Homo sapiens: one gene and its partner. The protein of the gene in region 2 interacts with the protein of the main gene of each other region in a biochemical or structural test. Each region holds a gene or a part of one and is shown on either strand. Other genes may lie near its edges.

Region 1 (7,107 bases), on a different chromosome or scaffold from region 2:
ATGCAAACATTTCCAGCTGCTATTTACTCCATTATTGTGGAATGAAAAAATTCCTTAGCATATTATTTGGTATTCTTCAGCAGTGCATCAAATTTGTCCGCACCGACATTTGTCCATACTTGAGAGAGTTGCTATCTCTAAAAGTCTGAAATTCCATGCTGAAAGTGTGTTCTTGGGAGTTTATCAAGAAAGAGGTACATGATTGTAGAATGGAGAGCCAGCCCTAAAGGAGTAACAAGTATTCACTCATGCAGCTGCTCCAGTATAGCTGCTGGGCTGCCAAGCCACCCACTTGCCACGTTCTTCACATTTACATCATGCTTTTCAGTCTCCTGGGTGTGTTTCCTGTTTCTAGTTTTTTGGAAGATCTTATTAAAGTTTTATTGATTTGTAATCAATTAAGTCTCTTGCTCTGTAATGAACAAATACTGACTTCTAATGTCAAAGGTCTGCCTTACACAGTCAACATTCTTCTGCCTGGTGCCAGAATCCCAGAAATCAGAAATCAGGAAACGGAACCAGAGCTGCTAGTACCTAAAAGAGTCGTTAGGTGGCAGTGGTGGATAGGAATGTTACTAATGTCTTCTCTAGGAAATACCGTACTTGCAGGAGGTGCCAATGCTGTATAACTTGTGGGGATATTGCTGTTCACAGAAGGGAGTATGAGCTGGTGAACCTGTTTAGAATCTCTGTCCAAACTCGCTCTGCATTAGATATTAAGACCAAGGACACCTCATTAGATATAAGTGCCAAAGTAAAAGCCACAAAGTTCAGAATCTACCCATAAGGATATCACAAAATAAAGACCGACCTGTTGTCAGGTTTCACGGGTGCCATTTCCAAACATGCCATTACCCACGTGATCGTGGATGAACAATGAAGTATTTACTTGTTAGTGTTTCTTACTGGTGTATATTCCACAGAACTCATATTATTCACCTTGAATCAACATGCTTGCCTTATTATAACCCTTAATATTTTTTAAGTAATTGACTTCATTTTTCTCTCCAGGCCTAGGTTTGTTCATCAAGAAAATAAAAGAGTTGCTAGCTCTAAAAATCTGAAGTTTCATGGTTCTCATTAAACATAATAGAGGCTTTGCTAGTTTCAATAGCAAAGGTCCAGTGACCCTCAGTTACAGAGACAAATTTTGTATAAGTTTAGTTGGGGGCCTGTAATCTTGATTCCCTAAGACATCCAGGAACCAAATCTCAGCAAGCGTACACCAAAACCACCAATATCTAACATCTGCTCCCTCACTCAAAACTTTCTCAATATATTCAACTCTAAATTCCTCAAAAAGCAAGGTAAAATGGAATTGGGAGAAAACCAGTAAGAGACAGATCGTTTGTGGTGTAAAAGTGAATCTGCCTAAGCCAAGGGTGCAAAGCCTCACATCTGGTGGCAAAAGTCCTATAGATATATCCTTCTGTACCCAAACACGTAACTGTCTGTCAGCTTTTTGTCAGTGGAATTAGTCCCAGCTGTTCTCTGTCCTTTTTTTCTTTTCTTTTCTTTTTTTTTTTTTTTTTTTTTTTTTTTGAGACGGAGTCTCGCTCTGTCGCCCAGGCCGGACTGCGGACTGCAGTGGCGCAATCTCGGCTCACTGCAAGCTCCGCCTCCCGGGTTCACGCCATTCTCCTGCCTCAGCCTCCCGAGTAGCTGGGACTACAGGCGCCCGCCACCGCGCCCGGCTAATTTTTTGTATTTTTAGTAGAGACGGGGTTTCACCTTGTTAGCCAGGATGGTCTCGATCTCCTGACCTCATGATCCACCCGCCTCGGCCTCCCAAAGTGCTGGGATTACAGGCGTGAGCCACCGCGCCCGGCCTGTTTTTTTTTTTTTTTTGAGACAGAGTCTTGTTCTATCGCCCAGGCTAGATCGCAGTGGTGCTATCTTGGCTCACTGCAACCTCCACCTCCCAGGTTCAGGCAATTCTCCTGCCTCAGCCTCCCAAGTAGCTGGGATTACAGGCGGCCACCACCACGCTTGGCTAATTTTGTGTATTTGGTAGAGACGGGGTTTCGCCATGTCGGCCAGGCTGGTCTCGAACTCCTGACCTCAGTTGATCCGGCTACCTCGGCTTCCCAAAGTGCGGGGATTACAGGTGTGAGCCACCACACCTGGCCCCAACTGTTCTTTAGAGTAACTTTATCTTCTGTATCAAATGAATCTGTTAGTATTCACAAGAATTATTCTCTCCCTCTCCCCACAGGCAATGTTCAGTATTCAAAAGATTCATCAAATTTTACACACCAGGGAGTTAACTTGACAGTTTATGATGAGTAACTATAGTTATCATTTTCATCAATGTGGCTTCACACTTTTATACATCCTAGGGCAAAATCCCCCAAAGTAAGAGCCTAACACCCAAGGCATATTCATCCCTTTATTGCTTTTCCTTCCTTCTTCCCTTCAACCTGCCAGTGAGCCTTCTTTTGATCTTGGGATGTGTTCCACTTTGTTTGAAAGAGCATCCAAAACTTTTCTAAGAAGAGAAATTAGCAGGGAAGGTTAGAAGGAAACAATGCTAAAAACATACTGTTTCTTTCCTTGTTAAGCCACGTGTAATGCCTGTAACAGGGGTGGACGACGGGGGAGGACTCCCGATGGCCTTCAGCAAATGGCTCCCCCAGGCCTTTGGGGATTTTATCACAATTTAGAAATCCCTCCTAAACTTCCACTTCCTCCCAGTCTCACTAATTTCTCTTTATCCACACATAGGCCATCCCAAAAGAAACCTGTTTTCATTTTAAACTTTAGAATCTGATCCATTTTCTTTTTAATTCATGAGCTTGAGCCTGGAGGCTTTAAAGGGAGGAAAATGGTTTCATTAAAATGGATGGATGGCTAGAAATAATATATAAAACAAATTGAACAATAGTTTACCCAGGAGGAAGAATCTTACAAAAATCTGGCAGTTTCCCTTCAACGGGAGATGGGTTCCAGCTGTTTGTTCCTGGAGATGGGTTCCAGTTGTGTGAACCTGGAGGCCTCTCCAGGTTCTGATTATATAGTGTTCCTAATATATAGTGTCCCAGTCCTGGCAGGGACATGAAAACCAAGGACACTGCTCTTGAACAAACGAGGAGGGTCATTCACCTTTTCGCTGGGCATGATTGGGTTAGATATTAACCCACCTGAATGGATTAGAGATTTGTTCTGGAAGACAAAGTTTGAGAAACATGGCCTTCTGTCCAAAAGTTGCCCTTTTCTGCTGTCTGTGGTGCTTACTCTTGTTCATGGCAGGACTGAGGTTTCCCTATTCACACATAATAGTCTGGATCCATAAGATAGCATCTCTGATCTCCCTGGGCCAACTCCAAGAACTGCCTTGGAAGATGTCACAGAGTAAGATATGGTCTTCCAGTAGGATGCTTTTCCACTGTACTATTTATCATTTATCATATCACATCCTATTTATCGTATCACATCATTTGGTTTCATGAACGGATGCTAAGCACGTTATTCCATCGATTTCATACAGCCAGGAAAGCACTTCCAGAGAAGGTTGTGTGACAGCTATTAGTACACTGCCCCTCCCCCTACACTCAACTTCTCAGCTTCTAACCCCCAGAAGCAGGCTTGCCATGTTTCCTGGGTTTCTCCTTCTTCCATCTTTACCTGTCCACAAGAGACTAACCCTGAACATTCAATCTTCTGATCCTTGTAATGTAGTTGCAAAATTGCTTATCTCCATCATCAAAGCAGGGCTGTAGATCCATTGCTTGCGTAAAAACAGTGGGCCAAAGGTCACCAGGATCACCTTATAGATCTCATAGTTTCCAATATCAGACAGCAGCAGGGTACCAACTGTTTCACAGACCCCCAGCATTTGCCCACAGTGGTGTTGGATCTAGGACAGTGTTATCTTTTTAAAAATCCTCAATCCTCTGTTGTCACCCACCTAGCTGCCAAGTATTCAGTCTGGCTGCACTTGAGAAGGTGTCAAGAAAAGACAGGCTGCCTGCTAGTAAAACAAATGCACTTGAAATCACAATAATTATAATATTCAGTGCAATCTTTCATTTTGTGAAGCTCTCACATACATGACTACATTCAACCAACACCAGGACTGTGTGAGGTAGGCATTATGTAAATATGCTCTGCTCATGAGGAAACTCCAAGAACAAACAGCAGATGAATGGTGGAGTCAGACTTTGAACCCTTCATAAGCAAGGAGAAAACTGACCTGTCTTTCCAGGCTTAGCTCAAGCAACACCACCTCTGAGTCCCGAAAAGCGGTACCCTGCCACAGCATACAACCCATATGCGCCTGCACACACACAGCCCCATGGCCTGAAGCACCAATTCAAGCACCGACTCACACAAACAGAGCAGCCTCTGATTTTAGAGTTCTGCAGTAGTGCTGAGGTGGGGCAACCAGCAGCCTCTGAATATAGTTAGGTCCCTTCTCTGCCTCTGGGCCTTCACTGGACAACCTTTGGAGGATACACAATCTGCCCACAATGCAAAAAGACAGTTTTATGTTTTTCTTTTAAACTTGGCACAAGGAAGTTTTGTTGAAATGAAAAGTAGGGTTTGGGGGAAAAATTACTATTTCATTAGAATGCATCTAAGCACTTAGTCATTTGTGTTTAAAATACAACAAGGAATTATATTCTATGATTAAGGAACATCACATCTTTGTCAGTAATTTTAATACAAATGAAGGAATCGCCAATTGCAAAAAACCTCATATATTTTTTAAATGTTCAGACAGCTTTAACTTGAAAGTCATTCCCCTTTCCTGGAGATTTTTTTCTCTCTCTCCCTCAAGCCAATAATGTCCCTGCACACAGACACGGGATGCACGGGTCCTGTTTCCAAGGACCCTAGTGTTAGAGCACTTTCCTCCTTCATACAGAGTATATATGTATCATTCTGTCTTAGGACTAATTATAAAATTAGATGATGGGAAGAATGGACTAAATAATTTCTATATTTCTTTATTATTCTAACACTTTAGGTCTATAAGCATGAACTTATTCAATAACGGAAGTAACAGGTAAAGAAGGAAAAGCACACGTGGCAAGAAGAACCACGTCTCCAGGAAGAGGCAACACTACTGATTGAAGGACAGTGGGGACAAAGTCCTGCTGACATGCCTGTATTTCCAAACAAAGACAAAAATTAAACATTTGCTTTTCAACCAACTCTGGGCTTTGTGCCCACTCACTCTTTGTTCCCATTCCCTCTTTCCCAAGTATTTCATGGCATTCTTCCGGGAATAACTGTTTACAGAGAATTACAGAGAATCTGCTTAAATACAGATTCAATAAAAACTCCTAAAGAAAGGTTTCACTGACCTTCATTGGTCCACTTTTTTATCCAGCTACTTTAATTTGAGTCACAGTGACCAATGCTTCCAACAATAACTTGACAAACCTCTTACTCTTGCCTGCTTATAACCTGATTATCTGTTTTCAACAATAGCTAAAGCCATTCCTCTTTTCCTGGAATGATTTTTTCCATCCTCTCTGCCAAACGATAGTTCATCTCCACATTACTAGAGTGCCTCATGTCCTGTTACTAACATCGTACCACTCCATGGAGTCATAGAACAAGAGTGGGAGGGGCCTCTGAGACTCTGTCCACCCCTCATATTAAAGAAGAGCCAACTGAGGAACAGAGAAAGAGACATGTATTGCCCAAGGAACTCATTGCATTCGCCGGCCTGGAAGCTTTCCAATGCACCACACAATTTTTTTTTTTTTTTTTTTTAAGACGGAGTCTTGCTCTGTCACCCAGGCTAGAGTGCAGTGACGCAATCTCTGTTCACTGTAACCTCCGCCTCCCAGGTTCAAGAGAGTCTCCTGTCTCAGCCTCCCGAGTAGCTGGGGTTACAGGTGCTCACCACCGTGCCCGGCTAATTTTTGTATTTTTAGTAGAGACGAGGTTTCACCATCTTGGCCAGGCTGGTCTCGAACTCCTGATCTTGTGATGCACCCACCTCGGCCTCCCAAAGTGCTGGGATTACAGGCATGAGCCACCGTGCCGGGCCCACACAACTTTTATATTCCATACTAGTACTTTCTAGACAATCAGAGCTAACTTTAAAGGGGCCACTGAAAGTTGCTGTTCGAAGGAAACCTACATTGACTATTACCATAAATTCAAAAATTATTTTACTCTGCTTGTCATCAGTAAAAGAATTGCTTGAATTGAAGCGTATGTAATAAACCTATCCTCTTGCAAAACTTGTTAGTGGCTCTGTGGTTAAGTAAGTCTTGAATACCTGAGGCTGCTTCTGGGAAGGTGGTCCTGTGCCACAGATAATGATGTCCCTTGGGTTTCTACTGATTACATTATGACTTGATTATAAGATTTTTACTGTCACGAGGGAGGGTCTTGGCTCATCTGAGATTTCCCTAGCCCCCTGAGTGGTGCTGAAATTGTTTTAATAAAGATGTTGCGCTTTACTCATGTGCTGCTATTAGCATTTGACGTGCTGTCTCAGAGCGAGAAAACGGAGGATCCCAACCTTCCAGTAGGAAGGCTTAGAGAAGAGGCTGTTGGCAAGTGTCTCTAAGAATTGCACAACACTGGCTGAGGGTGGGTTAAGGGTGAGGAGGCAGAGGAGAGTAAACAGAAAACACCGATCCCCAAATGTTAGTTACGCTTGCAAAAAACTAAGGCCTGCTTCAAAAAGCTGGTGATTAGCCTGAATAACTAGCAAAGCTTTCTTAGTTGTGGGCAAGTGCAGGCCTCCTAGGGCTTCCCTTAGGTTCGGCGATTCTGTGGTCCCCCTCCAAGCCTACTAATCAATAGAAGCTGGCATCTGTGCCCAGCTGCGCAAAGTAAACCTGAGTGGGAATGTAAAGTCGTTAACTCATACAAATACGGGACTTTCACGTCCCTCCCCATTCCTCCCTCTCCAGCCCCGTCCCGCAAACTCCTCCCCAAGGAGTCCCAAGCTGCCTCTACTAGGAAAGGACTCCCCGGCCTAAACGCCCCTTATGAAGCTACCAGAGAGGAGGAGGAGGAGCAGGAGTGTGAACCTACCTCGGCCTCAGAACAAGTCCGCAGAAACGGGCAGGACAATGGAAAGAAGTTTTGTTTCTCACCCGCTTCTTCCTCCCTAGTACGATGATGGGGAGCCGGTAG
Region 2 (7,969 bases):
AGGCGACGCGCAAAAGTTCCCGGTCCCTGGGACCCCCGCCCGCGCCCGCGTCGAGTCCCTCGAACCTGCTAGTTCTGGACACCCTGCTGCAGACTAAAGGGCTGGGAGGAAACCTCACAAAAACACGAAGGGGGTCTCCCCTGCCTCTCTGCCCCCGCCCGCGCCCGCTCCGCCCGGGACGCTCACCCGACGCCGCCGCCGCAGACCCAAGGCCAGAGCCGCTCCGCGTTCCTTCCGCCCAGGCGGGGGCGGGCGGAGCCTCCAGGCCGGGGCTGGCGGGGAGTCCACCCTGGGGGCCGCGCCCGCTAGTCGTCGCCCACTCGACCCTCTGGGCTCAGCCCCCGGGCCTCGTCCCAGCTACTACCCCAGCTTTCCCACTCCCCCCTGGGTCGGGGGTGAAGCCTGACGTCCGCATCCCGTTTCCCACTCTGGCCCCAACCAGCCTTTCCACCGTACAGCCGCCTTCCCCCAGACCATCCCTCCAGCTCTGGCAGCTCCCACCACCCTCGAGGGACCGGCCCCTGCCTCCTCCCACAAGCAGGCCGGATTCCAGGAATTGCCCAAACAATAAAATAAAGCAAACCTGAGACACCCCTTTTTGCTACCAGACTGGAGAAGGTGGAACAGGTTGACGATGATTTGTTGTAGCTGAGGCGAACGGGGCGAGGCTGTGAGGACGGGTTTTGGAGCGCCGCTCGGCCGTCCTCAAAACTTTGGACACACCCTCCGTTTCTGTCAGTCAAGAGTTCTTCATGCCTGAGCTCGGGAAGCATGTTCAAAATCTTTTTTTTTTTGTTTGGTCCCGCCTTTCTGGACCAAACCAATGGATATCTTAAATGTATTTCATTAATGCCTCATGTCTCTCTAAAACATGTAAAACCAAACTGCCCCAACCACCTTGGGCACATGTTCCCAGGATCCCCTGAGGGCTGTGTCACCGGCCGCGGTCACTCATATTCGATTCAGAATAAATCCCTTCAAATATTTTACATTTTAACTATTCTTATCGACAGTACATTTTTTAAAATAAGAATGGCCCTGAAAGATGTCCACCTCCTAATCTCCAAACCTGTGGTGTTACCTTAAGTGGCAAAAGGGACTTTGCAAATATTAAGAATATTGAGATGTGAAGGCTACCCTGGGGTGTCTGGGCGGCCGGCATATAATCATGAGAGTTCTTATGCAGAGACAGTAGGTTTTGAAGATGGAAGAAGGTGGCCTCTAGAAGTTGGAAGAGGAAAAGAAGCAGATTCTCCTTGGGAAACTCCAGAAGGAACTACCCTTGCCAACACCTTGATTTTAACCTCCTAAAACTCACTTCGGGCTTCTGAGCTCCAGGCCTATAAAACAGCCTGTGACAAATTCGTTATAGCAGGGATGAGAAAATAGCTCACTGCAGCCTCCTCTTCCAGGGCTCAAGTGCTCCTCCTCCCTCAGCGTCCCAAGTAGCTGGGACTACAAGCGTTCACTACCGCAACTGGCTAATTTTTTCTATCTTTTGTAGAGACGGGGGTCTCACTATTTTGGCCAAACTCAGTATGTTGGTCGCAAACTCCTGGGCTCAAGAGATCCGCCCGCCTCGGCCTCCCAAAGTGCTGGGATTACAGGCTGCAGCGCACCCAGCCTAATGTAACTTTTTTTTTTTTTTTTTTTTTTTGAGAAGGAGTTTCGCTCTTGTCAGCCGGCTGGAGTGCAGTGGCACGATCTCGGCTCACCGCAACCTCCGCCTCCTGAGTTCAAGCCATTCTCCTACCTCAACCTCCCAAGTAGCTGGGATTATAGGCGCCTGCCACCACGCCCGGCTAATTTTGTATTTTTAGTAGAGACGGGTTTTCACCATGTTGGCCAGGCTGTTCTCGAACTCCTGACCTCAGGTGATCCGCCTGCCTCTGACTGCCCGGCCCAGTGTAACTGTTAACGGCAACATCGTGTGCAGTCTCCGGCTTGCATTCGGTTTAGTCAGCCAATCGCTAAGACGACACTTGAGACCGTTTTCAGATCTTTAGGCTTTCCACCATCCTAGAAGGGGGCCTGCCTGGTTCTAAGGCCCTTCTGAAACACTGCCAAACTGTCCTCGGGAAACGGTGCAGAAGTCCTCTGGTTTCCCCCAAGGCGCGTGGGCACCTTGGCTGGAACCTCGCCCAGTAACACGACGTGCCTGGGGCCCCTTCGTCATTTCCGCCAACCCCGGTGACAACCCTGACACCGGCCCCTAAGTGCCATTCCAGTTATGTTGCTCTCCTCCCCGCAGCCCCAGGCGGCAGCTTCGCGGCCCGGCGTCCGGTCCCCCGGTGGTCCCGGAGCGAAGCTCCGCAATGGAGAGCGGAGGACCCTCCCTCCCCGACCTCGCACGACCAAGACCGCCCACCTTTCCCCCAACGCCCGGCTGTGGGAGCCGTTCGAGTCTTCTCCGCCAGGGCGCTCCTTCCCGGGAGGCCGCTTCTTTGGGGGAATAAGGTCAAGGATTACGGGATTTGGGGAAGCAAGCTCGGCTGGGCCAGGATTGCTTGCGTAGCTCGCTGGAATCTAAGGCACTAGAGGGCTTGACGGCCACGTGAGGACGAACCACGCAGGCGCAGCCCCGCGCCCCGGGCAAGGACTTCCGGCAAGCCCCAAAGGGGAGCGTGCACCGCGATGACGTCCTCAAGGCGCGCCACGTCCGCCCGGCGGCGCAGCTGCCCAGCGCAACCTCGGCCCCGCCTCGATAGCCCCGGACCCCTGCCCCGCCCGACCCCGCCCCGCCACGGGAGCGCGCCACTCGCCCGCGCAGCAACGGCCTCAATAGCGCCAGGCCCGCGTCTACAAGAAGCCCGACCAAGGCCGGCGTGGGCGAGGCCTGGCTAGACGCTGACGCACCGCTGGAGCTACTGACCTCGGGACGACTGGCGGACGGTCGCGGGCCTGGAGACCCAGAGCGAGACGGCCTACTTCGTTCTCGAGCCAGCAGAACGGGTTGAACGTGTCGACAACCCCACCCGCCAGTCAGCGGCGCGGGCGTGTTCGAGCCGGCTCGTGGGCGTGGTCAGGTGCGTGGGCGGGGACTACTGGGCGGGGCTCGGCGCGGGGGCGGGGCCTGGCGGGAGTAGTCTCGGGGTCGGGGCGGGGCCCGGCGGGCGGGGCTCGGCTAAGCACAGTCTTGGCGCAGCGGCGGGGCCTGGTGGGGCGTGGCTCGGTGAGGGAGGTCTCGCTTGGGGGCGTGGTCTCCCCCAGTAGGCGGGGCTTGGTGCCGGGGGCGGGGTCTGGCGGGCGCGGGCGCGTGTGCGTGTTGTGGGCCTCGCACTGGCACGCAAGTCTCAGCAATTCCTGAGAATCCTCGGAGGAAGAGGCCGGGGCCCGGTGCGGCAGCGCCTTGGGGGCGGAATCGCAGGCGCGGGTCGGGCCTTGCTGGGGCGCGGGGCGCGGCCCCCGGAGAAAGCGGCCGCCTCGGGACAGGAGGGACCCGGGAGAAACCCCCCTGGGGCGGCTCCGCATGTCGGGGTCGCGACTCTAGGCGACCTTGGTAGAGGGGCTCGTTTGCGCCGAGCTCGCGACCCCCGAGGGAGCCACGGCCCCGTGAACCACGCTGCCCGTCCTGGCCACTGGCTGCCGCCTTTGTTTCGTGGGACCCCAGCCCGCAAGGCCTGCGGAGCCGCGGCCTCGTCCCGAGTGTTCTGAGCGCGGTCCGAGCTGCTCCTGCGTCCACTCTGCTGCCGACACCCGAGCGTCGCCTGGAGCCCTGGCACTGAGGGGCGCAGGCCGAGTTCCAGACCAGCCTGGGAAACGCAAAGCGACCCCACCTCCACAAAAGTGGGTTTTCTTTAAGTTTTTGACTAGTCCGCAATTCACAGAATTGACATTTTGGCAGATGAAGATTGCAAGTAAGGAAACTAACGGTATCTCAGATTTGTTCTTTAGCAATTTGCTAAACCTCTCCTCTGACTGCCTTTATTAGGTATTTGTTTTCGAGACAGGGTCTCACTCCACTGCTTAGGCTGTACTGCAGTGGCGCGATCCCAGCTCGCTGCAGCCTCCACCTCCCGGACTCCAGTGATCCTCCCGCCTCAGCCTCCCAAGTAGCTGGTACCACAGGCGCCAGCACGCCTGGCTAATTGTTGTATTTTATGTAGAGAAGAGGTCTCCCTGTGTTGCCCAGCCTGGTCTTGAATTGGGCTCAAGTGATCCTCCTGCTTCAGCCTCCCATATCGCTGGAATTACTGGCATAAGCCACTACACCCGGCCTGATCATCTTTAAAGAAGGTGGTTCTGGCCGGGCGTGGTGGCTCACACCTGTAACCCCAACACTTTGGGAGACCGAGAAGGGTGGATCACCTGAGGTCAGGAGTTCAAGACCAGCCTGGCCAACGTGGTGAAACCCCATCTCTACTAAAAATACAAAAATTAGCCAGGCATGGTGGTGGGCACCTGTAATTCCAGCTACTTGGGAGGCTGAGGCAGGAGAATCGCTTGAACACGGGAAGCAGAGGTTGCAGCGAGCCTAGACCACACCATTGCACTCCAGTTCGGGCAACAAGATGAAACTCTGGCTGGGCGCGGTGGCTCACACCTGTAATTCCAACACTTTGGGAGGCCAAGGCAGGCAGATCACCTGAGGTCAGGAGTTCAAGACCAGCCTGGCCAAGATGATGAAACCCCATCTCTACTAAAATTACAAAAACTTAGCCAGGCATGGTGGTGCATGCCTGTAATCCCAGCTACTCAGGAGGCTGAGGCAGGAGAACCACTTGAACCCAGGAGGCAGAGGTTGCAGTGAGCCAAGATCGTGCCACTGTACTCCAGCCTGGGCAACAAGAGCGAAACTCCATCTCAAAAAAGAAAAAAGAAACTCCGTCTCAAAAAGAAGGTGGTTCACACACACACACACACACCCCCAAGAAAGCTCAGGGCTGGAAGGCAGCCAACCTGGCTGTGACCCTCATCCTGCACACGTGAGCTTGGTGACCAGTAGCTGATTCTTTAACTCTCTAAGCTTTGGAGTCTGGATGTGAGGTTTAGAATTCATGACAAGAAGCTGGAAGGATGCCGCCAGTCTGACTCCTGGACTGGTTCTCTTGACATCTTTGCAAAAGCTGCTGAAATGTTCTGGTTTCATTTCATTCTTTTCTTTGCCATGATCTCTTAGATTTGTTCGTGGCAATTCTCATAAGAGTGAAGAAAATGTTTAAAATGGCTGTTGGGCTCCCTTTTGTGACACCTTGTGGGGAAGGTGCCCAGGTATGTATAGGTGCTGAGCGCACGGCCAGCATGGTGTCTGTGGCCGGGCCTCCCTCCTGGACAGTGCGGCCACAGCCCCTGAAAGGTATGTCTTCATTTTTATTTTATTTTATTGAGATGGAGTCTCGCTCTGTCGCCCAGGCTGGAGTGCAGTGGCGCGATCTCGGCTCACTGTAAGCTCCGCCTCCCAGGTTCAAGCCATTCTCCTGCCTCAGCCTCCCGAGTAGCTGGGACTACAGGCACCTGCCACCACGCCCGGCTAATTTTTTTTTTTTTTTTTTTTTTGTAATTTTAATAGAGACAGGGTTTCAGCGTGTTAGCCAGGATGGTCTCGAGCTCCTGACCTTGTGATTCGCCCGCCTCAACCTCCCAAAGTGCCTGGCCTTCATTTTTATTTTTGAACTTACCTGCCTCACCTCGTTATGTCTTTATCTTATTTTTAAACTTACTCAGTTCACCCACTGTGGAATTGGGAGTATATGGAAGTATTCCCACCCCCAGTTTTATATACCGCCCCAGAGCTGACCATTCTCGCTCATTTCCCCGGGTCCTGGCCGACTCGAGTGTGCCTTTCCTTCCGATCCTGCTCCACACAGATCTGAGGGATGCTGCCCTTTCCTTCTCCACCTGCCCCTCCCTCACATCCAGCCCCACCAGCCTACACGTTAGCTTAAATAGGGAGCTTTTACATTCCCCATGAAAGGGAATCCAGGGACAGGCTGAGGCAAGAGACCCCCAGTGTTCATGAGATGCCATCTAGAGAAAACACCGTGGTGCTGAAGGCCTAAGTCAGACCCCGGGGAGAGAGGCACCAGGGTGACTTTGGGTGGAGAGTCCTGTGCCTGTTCTACTTCTATAAATATACTCAGGTCAGGCACGGTGGCTCACGCCTGTAATCCCAGCACGTTGGGAGGCCGAGGCAGGCGGATCATTTGAGGTCAGGAGTTCAAGACTAGCCTGGCCAACATGGTGAAACCCCATCTCTACTAAAAATACAAAAAAATGGCTGGGCACAGTGGCTCACACCTGTAATCCCAGCATGTTGGGAGGCCAAGGCAGGCAGATCATTTGCGGTCGGGAGTTCAAGACCAGCCTGACCAACATGGAGAAACCCCGTCTCTACTAATAATACAAAAATTAGCCAGGCATGGTGGCACATGCCTGTAATCCCAGCTACTCGGGAGACTGAGGCATAAGAATCGCTTGAACCCAGGAGGCAGAGGTTCTGGTGAGCCGAGATCACGCCATTGCACTCCAGCCTGGGCAACAAAAAGCAAAACTCCATCTCAAAAAAAAAATACAAAAAAATGAGCTGGGCGTGGTGGCCTGCACCTGTAATCCCAGCTACTTGGGAGGCTGAGGCAGGAGAATCACTTGAACCCAGAAGGTGGAGGTTGCGGTGAGCAGAGACCACACCACTGCACTCCAGCCTGGGTGACAGAGTGAACCATGTCTCTAAATAAATAAATAATATGTTTGTCTGAAAGTGCCTTTTTAACAAAGTATGAGATGTGTACATAAAGTGCACATAGCGCAAGTGTCGCACGCAGTGGATTTTCACACGCAGCACGTGAAATGGGAAAACACTGGCCCGGCACGGTGGCTCACACCTGTCATCCCAGCACTTTGGGAGGCCGAGGCGGGCGGATCACAAGGTCAGGAGATCGAGACCATCCTGGCTAACACGGTAAAACCGCGTCTCTACTAAAAATACAAAAAATTAGCCGGGCGTGGTGGCGGGCGCCTGTAGTCCCAGCTACTTGGGAGGCTGAGGCAGGAGAATGGCGTGAACCCGGGAGGCGGAGCTTGCAGTGAGCCAAGATCGCGCCACTGCACTCCAGCCTGGGCGACAGAGCTAGACTCCGTCTCAAAAAAAAAAAAAAAAAGAAATGGGAAAACATTGAGGATGAAGTAGCAAATATTTGAGAATTCAACTTGATTGGTGGCTGTTGCAGGTTCATACGTGAGTGGTTACGTAGTGGGTAGTTAAACTGACAATGACCAGCTGAATTTTGGTGACAGGACTGCTCCTAAGGTTTGAAATGTAGCGTATCCTCTGATTCACGGGCTAAGCTCTGCCACTTAGCAGGAGGAGCTCATGATAGAGCAGGTTGAGGGGAAAACTTTGCCCCATAAGGGTTCTTCACTGCAAGTGAGAAGGTCTTGGCTTTGAGCCTCCAATTTCAATCAGACAGAAAGCAGACCAGTCGGCAGGACAGTATATGCCTCTGGAGATCCGTGCTGATGTGGGGGCCTCAGATACAAGATGCCTCAGGGCCCAGGCGTGACCCTCTCCTTCCCTCCTGCACGGAGATGCTGTGAGAATTAGACACTCCCACAGGGCCCTGTCAGACACTGAGCTAGCCTCTGGGAACCGGAAGATATTCAAAACACCAGCCACCCCCCACACACACAGACAAGGCGCTGGAGGGACAGCTGTGCAGCGGCAGAGCATGAGAGGTCTTGATCAGTTAACTCAGTGAGGTTAGGAGGCGAATTTTTTTTTTTTTGAGATGGAGTCTTACTTTGTCACCCAGTCAGGAGTGCAGTGGCGTGATCTCGGCTCACTGCAACCTCCGCCTCCTGGCCTCAAGTGATTCTTCCGCCTCAGCCTCCCGAGTAGCTGGGACTACAGGTGCGTGCCACCACACCCAGCTAATTTTTGTATTTTTGGTAGAGACAGTGTTTCACCACGTTGGACAGGCTGGTCTCAATCTCTTGACCTCGTTATCTGCCTGCCCTGGCCTCCCAAAGTGCT

The links.
Region 1: the proteins of RNH1 (region 2) and ANG are reported together in a solved structure, tested with the Homo sapiens proteins (3 studies listed by BioGRID and IntAct, with this or other methods).

What each region holds. Positions count from the first base shown.
Region 1 is NC_000014.9:20,684,657-20,691,763, reverse strand, and holds the start of ANG (angiogenin precursor), read right to left. Parts: upstream 3,001-7,107; 5' UTR 2,890-3,000; intron 1-2,889. UniProt on the Homo sapiens protein: Secreted ribonuclease that can either promote or restrict cell proliferation of target cells, depending on the context. Endocytosed in target cells via its receptor PLXNB2 and translocates to the cytoplasm or nucleus.
Region 2 is NC_000011.10:504,241-512,209, forward strand, and holds the start of RNH1 (ribonuclease inhibitor), read right to left. Parts: upstream 3,003-7,969; 5' UTR 2,873-3,002; exon of another isoform or gene 2,222-2,872; intron 762-2,221; exon of another isoform or gene 757-761; 5' UTR 584-756; intron 237-583; exon of another isoform or gene 187-236; intron 1-186. UniProt on the Homo sapiens protein: Ribonuclease inhibitor which inhibits RNASE1, RNASE2 and angiogenin (ANG). May play a role in redox homeostasis. Required to inhibit the cytotoxic tRNA ribonuclease activity of ANG in the cytoplasm in absence of stress.